Regions from separate parts of the Homo sapiens genome. Here region 2 is linked to region 1. Evidence: fine-mapped expression QTL. A gene starts in region 1. The other region holds a variant in brackets. All regions are shown on one strand. Distances are between the middles of the regions.

Region 1 (5,374 bases):
CACCCAGGCTGGAGTGCAGTGGCGAGATCTCGGTTCATTGCAACTTCCGCCTCCCGGGCTCAAGTAATTCTTCCACCTCAGCCTCCCTAGTAGCTGGGTTTACAGACATGCACTACCATGCCCGGCTAATTTTTGTATTTTTAGTAGAAATGGGGTTTCACCAGGTTGGCCAGGCTGCTCTTGAACTCCTGACCTCAGGTGATCTGCCCGCCTTGGCGTCCCAAAGTGCTGGGATTACAGGTGTGAGCCACCACGTCTGGCCATCTGATGTCTCCTTTAACTAGGACATCAGCTCCTAGAGGGCAGGGACTGATCTGTCGTCTACCACTGTCCCCATACCCGGGCAACACCTGGCACGTAGCATGATTTTAGTGAGCAGCTACTGAGTGTAAGGGGTAACGTACAAATAGTTGAGCTGTCTTGGGGCCCTGCCTGGGGCTCAGATTAAAAATCAGCTTAGTCGGCTGGGCGTGGTGGCTCACGCCTGTAATCCCAGTACTTTGGGAGGACGAGGCTGGCGGATCACCTGTGGTCGCCAGGTCCGAGACCAGCCTGACCAACATGGAGAAACCCTGTCTCTACTAAAAATACAAAATTAGCCGGGCATGGTAGCGCATGTCTGTAATCCCAGCTACTCCGGAGGCTGAGGCAGAAGAACTACTTGAGCCCAGGAGGTGGAGGTTGCAGTGAGCCGAGATCGCACCATCACACTCCAGCCTGGGCAACAAGAGCGAAACTCTGTCTCAAAAAAAAAAAAAAAAAAAAAATCAGCTCAGTTTTAGTAAGAGCTCGCCACGCAGGTGCCCTCACCACCTGCCAGGCCCTCTGCCATCTGGTTTTCCTACTGAACCCTCCCCGACCAGGTGTTTTCCAGATGGAGAAACAGGCCCTACCTGCCTTGCTCGGGGGTGTGCAGCCATTTCAGGGCACAGCTGGCCGCTGGGAGAACCAGGACTCAAACCTGGCTCTACGCCGGCACTCACCTCGTCGATCTCACACTGGACCACGGACTCCACGGAGGGGTGCTTCACCACCTCCCGCAGGACACCTCCATCTCCGCCCCCGATGATCAGCACCTGGGAGGAGGGGGCAGTCAAGGCAGGGGCCCTGGCAGGACTGGGAGCCCCCAGGCCCCTGAAGCAGACCCCCTGACCCCTCGGACCCACGGGCCTCATCTTTTTCTACCCTCGGAAACGCTTTCGTGCCGGTGTCCCCTTTCCTGGAAGTTCCTTCCAGGGCTGCCCTAGGATTCCGAGGCCGCGTCAGTGTCGGCCCCCACCCCTCCGCGGGACGCCCCTGGCCTCGCTAGCACTTTCTCTGACAACCATGCAGGCAGCATCTGGGAAGAGCCCGGAGCACACCTGGGGCCGCCCCTCGTCCGGCACTGTTCCAGGGGACACTGGGGTACCTTTCGCGGGTTGGGGTGGCTGCAGAGAGGCAGGTTGGCGATCATCTCCTGGTAGGAGAACTCGTCTCTCTCCGTGCACTGGATGACACCGTCCAACACCAGCACGTTGCCATAGGTCTTACTGCGGGCGGAGTGACAGTCGGGGACCTGGGTTCTCTGGGGTGGGGAAAACGTACCCCAAGCCGCCCTGGGTGAGGAGGGTCTCCCCATCCCGCCTAGGGGTCCCAGGGATGAGGAGCGATGGTGACACGTGGCGAGGAACGGCAGGCGGGCCGCCGGGTGGAGGCCGGGGTGGGACCCGGGGTCTCCTCGGGCTCTGACGTGTCCTGAGGGCTGACACGTGGAGCGGGGCGCAGACTCCGACTCCCCCACCCAAGAGGCCAGCCCGCAGTCCCAGCCCCAGCCCAGGGAGGCGGTGTGAGGGGTGGCGAGGGGGCCAGGGCAGGACGAGGTCCAGCCCGCTTGGGTCCCGGCGTGGAGAGGCCCGTGAGGCGGGCAGCAGGCGGCCCGGGCTGAGCCTAGGGGGCAGGCGCCTGCGGGCAGCGGCGGTACCTGCGGAAGACGAGGATGTCCTGGTAGCGCGAGCGCCGGTGGTGGAGCAGCTGCTCCACCTGCAGTGACAGGGCCTGGCCGGGCCACAGGCTGCAGGTCTCGCGGAACCAGCCCTCGCGGATGGCGGCGGGGCCGGAGGCGGCGGGGCCGTCGGGGCCGGGCTCCATGGCGGGCGGGCGGGCGGCGCGGGGCGCGGGCCCGGGACTGCAGGCCGCGCGGCGCCGCAGCACAACGGGACCAGCTCCGCCCGCCGCCCGCGCCGCAACCTAACCCGGGCGCGGGGCGGGGCCTGCCGGCGGGGGCGGAGCCCGCGCTCGCCAATGGCAAAGCGGCCTCGCCTGGCGCTCATTGGCCACCGGCTCGCAGAGCGGCGCAGAGTGGCTGTGGCGCGCCGTCCGTCGGCGGCAGCAGGGTAGTGCGGCCCGCTCCAGGGGCCACGTGGGGCCCGGCCGGGGCCGGGCGGCCGGGTCGGGTTCCGGGGCGGGCTGGGCCGGCGGAAGGGGTCCGGGTCCTTCCTCCGCCCCAAGCAGCCGGGGCGGTGCACCACCGGCCCCCGCTTCCTTCTCGGGGTTGGGAGGCACCGAGGGCCTCGAGGGGCTGCGGGACTCGGGCTTGGTGTGGAGGGCAAGAGCGCTGCGACGTGCGGACTGGAGAGTCAGCCTTTGGGCTGGAGACACGGGAGCGGGTGGCTACAGTGGTTTACGTTGTTGCACGGGGCGAGTAGAACGTATCCTTCTTTGCGTCCAAAATCTGGTTCCTTGTTGGATTTGAACAGATTATGTGGCTCGTCGGGGCGAACCGAGGGTTTTTATTTACTTGGAAAGAATCATCACAGCCCGCGAATTCACAAGCTGGATTTAGCCATTTTCCCTTAGATTCTGCGCCATGAGCCTATAGGCTGTTGAATACGAGAGAAGTGCTTTTCTAAACGAGTTTCTAAATTTACCAGCAGTGTCCAGGAAGAGGCCCAGAACATACATATTCAGCACCAGAAAAGACTGGCACGCAATTTTTCTTGACAAACTGGGTCTTGCTCTTTGAAGGGTGGGTGGGAATGTGCTGTTTTTATGAGAATGTCAAAGAACTTCTCAGAATCACATTAAGCATGCTAATTACCAAATATTAAATGCTAATTGTTCCACACGCAGTTCGAATGCCAAGGAAGGAAGATGAAACTAGTATAAGCTACTCTTGACATTATGTCAGGGATGGTTTTGACACGTTTTGCAGCCTCCACCTGGAGGTGGGGAACGTTTCCTGTGTCGTCCCCAGAGCAGAGTAACAGCGTTGTTTATGGGTGAGAGCAAGCCTCAAGCCTAGGCAACAATGTGCCTTGCTTGCTTTTAAGCTCCTTCTAAAGGGGAGGTAAACCAAGACCGCTAAAGAATTGCTAGGTGCCTGGGCGTGATGGTTCACCCCGGTAATCCCAGCACTGTGGGAGGCGGAGGCGGAGGCGGGCGGATCACGAGGTCAAGAGATCAAGACGATCCTGGCCAACATGGTGAAACCCCGTCTGTACTAAAAATACAAAAATTAGCTGGGCATGGTAGTGCGCGCCTGCAGTCCCAGCTACTCGGGAGGCTGAGGCAGGAGAATCGCTTGAACCCGGGAGTTGGAGGTTGCAGTGAGCTGAGATTGCGCCACTGCACTCTAGCCTGGGCAACGATAGTGAAACTCCGTCTCAAAAAAAAAAAAAAAAAATTGCTAGGCAGCTGGGCACAGGGGCTCAGGCTGATAATACTAGAATTTTGGGAGGCCGAGGCAGGAGGACCGCTTGAGCCCAGGAGTTCGAGACCAGCCTGGGCAACATAGCAAGACTGTCTCTAAAAAATAAAAAACATTGCTAGGCAACAGCTTCCATGGACTTGTTCCAGGAACGAAGATTATTCTTGAAATGTCCACGTAGTGGATAAGACAGAGTCAATCAGTGTGTCCAGTGCTACAGGCTTGATTGGGTTCAATCCTGTACTTGGGTCAAGGTGTTTGCCTACATTGCCTGTACTTCCTCCAAGACATTTCTGCCTCTGGGTTGTAACTGCCCGTGTACTTGTCTGTGTTCCCTAAGCCAGATCATAAGCTCTGAAGCTGAGGATGGTGGCTGTAGATGGCAGTACTTGTCTGTGTTCCCTGAGCCAGATCATAAGCTCTGAAGCTGAGGATGGTGGCCGTAGATGACAGGCCTGGATGCAGCCAGGTGCCTTGTGGATCAGCTTGCTTTTAGGTGGTGAAGGACTGACCATAGACAGTGGCCCTGGCATTCCAGGACACTGCATGGGGGAAAGTGGAGGGCCAGGTCCATCCCATCCCCTCTATAAGCTGGACAAAGCTGCTCCAGCATGTGGGTCCTCACATGAAAAAGGCCACATTGACATCCTTTGTCCTCCTGTAGAGGGAGTGAAACTGAGAGGCCTCAGCCTCAAGCAGGCACAGAACTTGAGACCTCTCGGCCAGAGTGTACAGACATTGCACAAACCTTCCAAGTTCAGAGAAGACAAAAGCCCTGAGTAAATTACAGACAAAAAAGCCCCCAAATATACAGCACTGTGAATCCAGAAATGCCACCTGACTTCAGGTCACAAGGAAGAAAAACTGATTTTGCCAGAAGTAGCCATTATTGCACAGCCCAGTTATAATCACAACTGACGTTAAAGTCAGGCCAGATGACCACAGAAGTCTACAGAAAAAAACCAGGATTGGCCACGCGTGGTGGCTCACGCTTGTAATCCCAGCAGTTCGGGAGGCCAAAGCGGGTGGATCACCTGAGGTCAGGAGTTCAAGACCAGCCTGGCCAAGGTGGTGAAATTCCATCTCTACTAAAAATACAAAAACTAGCTGCCATTGTGGCGTGCACCTGTAATCCCAGCTACTTGGGAGGCTGAGGCATGAGAATTGCTTCAACCCAGGAGGCGGAGGTTGCAGTGAGCCACAGTCGCACCACTGCACTCCAGCCTAGGTGACAGAGCGAGACCCTGTCTCCAAGAAAGGAAAAAAAAAAAAACAAAAAAAAACACCCCCAACACCAAAAAACAAAACAAAACAAAACAAAAAAACAACCAAACAACCAGGACTGAGAAAATCAGGCTTTAGCATGAAATGTTTTCCCCTAAATTCAGACCAATGTACCTCAAAAACCCAGTTGTAAAGCTTAAGTGTCTAGTGGGTTAACTATCCCACCCAACCTCCTAAAAAGTGTTATTATAAAAGGAAAAAGGGGAGAAAGGGTAGAGGAGAGAAAGGTGGGCCAATGGCTACTGTTCAAGGAAATGGTTTAAATGGGGCTGCCACGTGGTTATGTGTCTGTCACGAGAGGCTTGTTAAGCAGTTAGCACTTGAGTCATTTTTCTACACTTCCATTCAGCCAGGCAGACAGCTGTGGTTATGAGTGGGAACAATTTTGGCCATTATGTGGTGTGG
Region 2 (5,374 bases), 59 kb before region 1:
GACTGGCTATGTGACTCTGGCCAAGTTACTTGGCCTTTCTGTGCCTCAGTTTCCTCAGAGAAGGTCAATAGTAGTAGTACTTGGTAAATAGAGTTGAGGTAAGAATTAAATTTGCCAACTCTGAGCCTGGTATATAAATGCTCAAATAAATTATTATGTTATCACTTTGGTCGCACAATTTCTGCCCAAGGGGAAATAATAAAAGGAGTCAAAACAACAATCTCCTGTGAAATATTCCAACAGGTCCAAGGAGTTGGGCTATGGATTTTGGACAAAGAGAAGAGAGCCTCTAATGTGAAAGGAAGACCCCAGTGTGCCAGGCACGGTGGCTCACGCCTGTAATCTCAACATTCTGGGAGGCTGATGCAGATGCATTACCTGAGGCCAGGAGTTTGAGACCTGCCTGGCCAACATGGTGAAACCCTGACTCTACTACAAACACAAAAATTAGCCAGGCGTGGTGGTGGGCAGCTGCAGTGCAGCTACTCAGGAGGCTGAGGCAGGAGAATCACTTGAACCCGGGAGGCAGAGGTTGCAGTGAGCCAAGATTGTGCCACTGCACTCCAGCCTGGGTGACAGAGCAAGACTACATCTCAAAAAAAAAAAAAAGAATGAATAAATAAATACAATAATAATAAAAATATTGAAGGTAAAATTGGGGAAATTTCACAGAAAGTAGAATTTTTAAAATTGTAACAACAAAAGAAAAAAGATTTTCAAAAATGATGCATCATTGTAGGAAAGTCAATAGCTAACAGGAATTTCAGAAAGAGAGAACCAAGGAATCATTGGGGAAAAAGCTGTCAAAGAAATAATACAACAAACTTTCCCAGAATTGAAGGACAAAAATCTCTATAACAAAAAGATCACCATATGCCCAGAACAATGAATGAAAAAAGATACTCAGGAAGACCAAGTCATCATCTTGAATTTCATTCTTTTTTTTTTTTTTTTTTGAGACAGAGTTTCACTCTTGTTGTTGCCCAGGCTGGAGTGCAATGGTGCAATCTCAGCTCACTGCAACCTCCACCTCCTGGGTTCATGCAATTCTCCTGCCTCAGCCTCCCAAGTAGCTGGGATTACAGGTATGTGCCACCACACCTGGCTAATTTTGTATTTTTAGTAAAGATGGGGTTTCACCATGTTGGTCAGGCTGGTCTCGAACTCCTGACCTCAGGTGATCCACCCACCTTAGCCTCCCAAAGTGCTGGTATTACAGGTGTGAGCCATCATGCCCAGCCCTTTTTTTTTTCTTTTTAAGACTAGTCAAGTGCAGTAGTGAGAAAAGGGGAAAGAATTGAACTGATCAACTGAGATAACTGACTACCTTCAGATCAGCCCATCTTGAATTTCAGAAAATGGATGATACGGTAAGATCATGAAAGAGTCCAGAGAGAAAATGAAGATTACGTGAATGACCAAGAATGCAATGGATTTCTTAACAGCAATAAGAGAAGCTAGGCGCCAGCAGAAAAATATCTTCTAAGTGTTGAGTATGAATGACCTTCAACCTAAAATTCTGTACGCAACCGGACTACCAATGACATGTAAATGGAATAAGACCATTTTCAGACATGTAAGGAAGTCTCCAGGATGACAACTGATACAATTTCCAGCAAGCAATCCAGGAAAGGAGGCATGAAGACTCCAAGAAATAAAAAAATAAAAATTACAAACTATCTGGCTGGGCACAGTGGCTCTCACCTGTAATCTCAGCACCTTGGGAGGCCAAGGTGAGTGGATCACTTGAGGTTAGGAGTTCAAGACCAGCCTGACCAACAGGGTGAAACCCCGTCTCTACTAAAAAAATACAAAATTAGTCAGGTGTGGTGGTGCACACCTGTAATCCCAGCTACTTGGGAGGCTGAGGCAGGAGAATCACTTGAACCTGGGAAGCGGAGGTTGCAATGAGCCAAGATCACGCCACTGCACTCCAGCTTGGGCAACAGAGCAAGACTCTGTCCCCCCCCAAAAAAATCACAAACTAGCTGACAGATTTGACTATGAAGAAAACCTTATTCAAGACATTTACACAACTTTTGGAGGGCATAAAATGATTATTTAGATGTTCAAAGAGAACAAAGCAAATGAAAAAGCAAGGCAATTATTAACTCCAGGAAAAAGTAAAGTTGCACAAGAAAAGATAAAACTTGTCTCAGTCATGAACACAATTTATGTAGTCATAATAGTGAAAACATTGAATATGTATTTAACCAAAAATGGTGATATTAGGTATCAGTATATTAAGAGGATGGAGGAAATGATAATGAAGTGTGAGCTAAAAAACCCTCATTAGACATAATAGGAAATCAGTAGATACTTTCTAAATTGAATAAATGAAAATTTTGCAGGATAAGGCCAGGCATGGTGTCTCATGCCTGTAACCCCAACACTTTGGGAGGCCAAGGTTGAGCCCAGGAGTTTGAGACCAGCCTGAGAAACATGGCAAAACCCCATCTCTAGCAAAAATACAAAAATTAGCCAGGCATGGTAGCACATGTCTGTATTCCCAGCTACTGGGGAGGCTGAGGTGGGAGGATGGCTTGAGCCCGGGAGGCAGAGGTTGCAGTGAGCTGAGATCGAGACACTGCACTCTAGCCTGGGTGACAGAGCAAGACCCTGTCTCAAAAAAA[T/A]TTTTTTTAATTGCAGGATAGATTTATTATTTTAAAAGATGTAGGTATATCCATAAGAAACAACTAAAAGAATGGTTACTTCTGATAAGGGATATGGAAGGGGCTGGGGAGAACAAGAGACTGCAGTTTTTTTGTTATTTGTATTTATGTACTAACTGGCTTTTTACAAAAAATGGTTTTAAAAACCCAAGATCTAGAACAAATAAGGGAGGCATACCTTAATTTTGGCAGCTAAGATGCTTAAATTAAAAGGAAAGTAAGCCAGGCGCAGTGGCTCACGCCTGCAATCCCAGCACTTTGGGAGGTCGAGGAGGTTGGATCATGAGGTCAGGAGATCGAGACCATCCTGGCTAACATGGTGAAACCCCGTCTCTACTAAAAATACAAAAAAATTAGCCAGGCGTGGTGGTGGGTGCCTGTAGTCCCAGCTACTCAGGAGGCTGAAGCAGGAGAATGGCGTGAACCTGGGAGGCGGAGCTTGCAGTGAACCGAGATTGTGCCACTGCACTCCAGCCTGGGCGACAGAGTGAGACTCCGTCTCAAAAAAAAAAAAAAAAAGAAAGTAAATCGTGATAAAATAAAAATATCTTACCTTAGTATTAGTTTACCTTTCAAAAGTACTTGTGGGCCGGGTGCTGTGGCTCATGCTTATAATCCCAGCACTTTGGGAGGCTGAGGTGGTCAGATCGCTTGAGCTCATGAGTTCAGCACCAGGCTGGGAAACATGGTGAAACCCCATCTCTACTGAAAATACAAAAAAAAAAAGAGCTGGGTGTGGTGGTGTGTGCCTGCAGTTCCAGCTACTAGGGAGGCTGAAGTAAGAGGATGGCTTGAGTCCATGAGGCAGAGGTGATAGTGAGCCAAGATTGGGCCACTGCACTCCAGCCTGACCAACAGAGCCAGACCTTGTCTCAAAGAACAAACAAGGCCGGCGCAGTGGCTCATGCCTGTAATCCCAGCACTTTGGGAGGCTGAGGTGGGTGGGTCACCTGAGGTCAGGAGTTCGAAACCAGCCTGACCAACATGGTGAAACCCCGTCTCTACTAAAAATACAAAAATTAGCTGGGTGTGGTGGCACATGCCTATAATCCCAGCTACTTGGGAAGCTGAGGCAGGATAATTGCTTGAACCTGGGAGGCCGAGGTTGCAGTGAGCTGAGATCACGCCATTGCACTCCAGCCTAGGCGACAAGAGCGAAACTCCGTCTCAAAAAAATAAACAAACAAACAAAAAAATGCTTCTGACAACAACCTAATGCCCTGATTCTGATTTCTAAATCGTTTTTCCCACTATAAGAAACCAGAGATTGGCAGGGCACGATGGCTCACGCCTGTAATCCCAGCACTTTGGGAGGCCGAGGTGGGCAGATCATGTGATCAGGAATTTGAGACCAGCCTGGCCAACATGGTGAAACCCTGTCTCTACTAAAAATACAAAAATTAGCCGGGTGTGGTGTCATGTACCTGTAATCCCAGCTACTCAGGAGGCTGAGGCAGGAGAATCACTTGAACCTGGGAGGTGGAGGTTGCAGTGAGCTGAGATCACACCATTGCACTCCAGCCTGGGTGACAGAGCGAGACTTCGTTTCAAACAAAACAAAACAAAACAAAACAAAACAAAACAAAACAAAACAAAAAACCATAGATCCTTTGAGGAATGGCTGATTCCAGGGATACAGCAGGGAAAATATAAGACAAGCCCGGTACATCTTGGTGGTCCAGAAGGCAAGAATGTGCTCAAAGGCTAATAGAGACACATCCAATGGACTTAGAGTCAGTTTAAAGGGTTTCCACAGAGCCTGAGTAAAATAATGTGATCATTAGAAACATTAATGACTATAACCTATTTTGAAACACTAAATAAATAAAAATGCAAGAGTTCATAGTGATTATTATTATTATTATTAGTTTTGAGACAGGGTCTCACTCTGTCTCCTAGGCTGGAGTGCAGTGGCATGATCTTGGCTCACTGCAACCTTCGCCTCCCGGCTCAACTGATTCTCCCACCTCAGCCTCCCAAGTAGCTGGGACTACAGGTGTGCACCACCACATCTGGCTAGTTTTTAAATTTTCTGTAGAGATGGGGTCTCCCTATGTTGTACAGGCTGGTCTTGAACTCCTGGGCTCTAGCAATCTACCTGCCTCAGCTTCCAAAGTGCTAGGATTATAGGCCTAAGCCACTGCACCCAGCCGTGACTATTTTTAAACAAGAAAAAAATACAATTAATTTGTCACTATTGGAGGTGATTATTGTGTCAGTCTATCCTGAAAATTGATAAAGGATTAAGCAGTTAGGAGGAACTGTGGTTCATCTCCAGGTGATGAAGGAAAATTCTTTACAAAAGAATATAGACGTACCGGAGAAGAGTTGACTCATGCCAGTAATCCCAGCACATTGGGAGGCCGAGACGGGAGGATCGCTTAGGGCCAAGAACATGAGACCAATCTGGGCAACGTAGGAAGACCCCATCTCTACAAAAAATTTTAAAAATAAAAAAAATTAGCCAGACATGGTGGTGCACTTGTAGCCCCAGCTACTCTGGAAGATGAGGCAGGAGGATCGCTTCAGCCCAGGAGGCCAAGGCTGTGGTAAGCCATGATTGCACCACTGCACTCCAAGGTGAGCGACAGAGTGAGACCCTATCCCTAAAAAAATAAAAATAAAAACAGACTGGGCGTGATGGCTCACCCCTGTAATCCCAGCACTTTGAGAGGCCAAGGCGGGTAGATCACGAGGTCAGG

Direction of the effects. Alleles are on the strand shown, and positions count from the first base shown. SD is a standard deviation of normalised expression in the study named.
For the expression in whole blood of the gene that starts at base 2,202 in region 1, allele T in region 2 goes with a higher level than allele A (moderate effect, 0.57 SD a copy in Lepik 2017).

What was found. PIP is the estimated chance that this variant, and not a neighbour inherited with it, causes the effect. A credible set is the group of variants that fine-mapping cannot tell apart.
Region 2: its variant is the best candidate, but not a certain one, in a credible set for the expression of SRM in whole blood (Lepik 2017, PIP 0.51).

The regions. Positions count from the first base shown.
Region 1 is chr1:11,057,817-11,063,190 of GRCh38, forward strand. It overlaps SRM (spermidine synthase), which reads right to left and starts at 2,202. Exons shown (of 8, transcript NM_003132.3): 1 at 1,961-2,202; 2 at 1,409-1,529; 3 at 984-1,076. The coding sequence starts at 2,127. RefSeq lists silencers at 1,722-1,911, 2,122-2,651.
Region 2 is chr1:10,998,606-11,003,979 of GRCh38, forward strand. No RefSeq gene overlaps it. Among named protein-coding and RNA genes, the nearest start is that of TARDBP, 11 kb to the right of the region's middle. The variant T/A (reference allele first, on the strand shown) is at 2,634.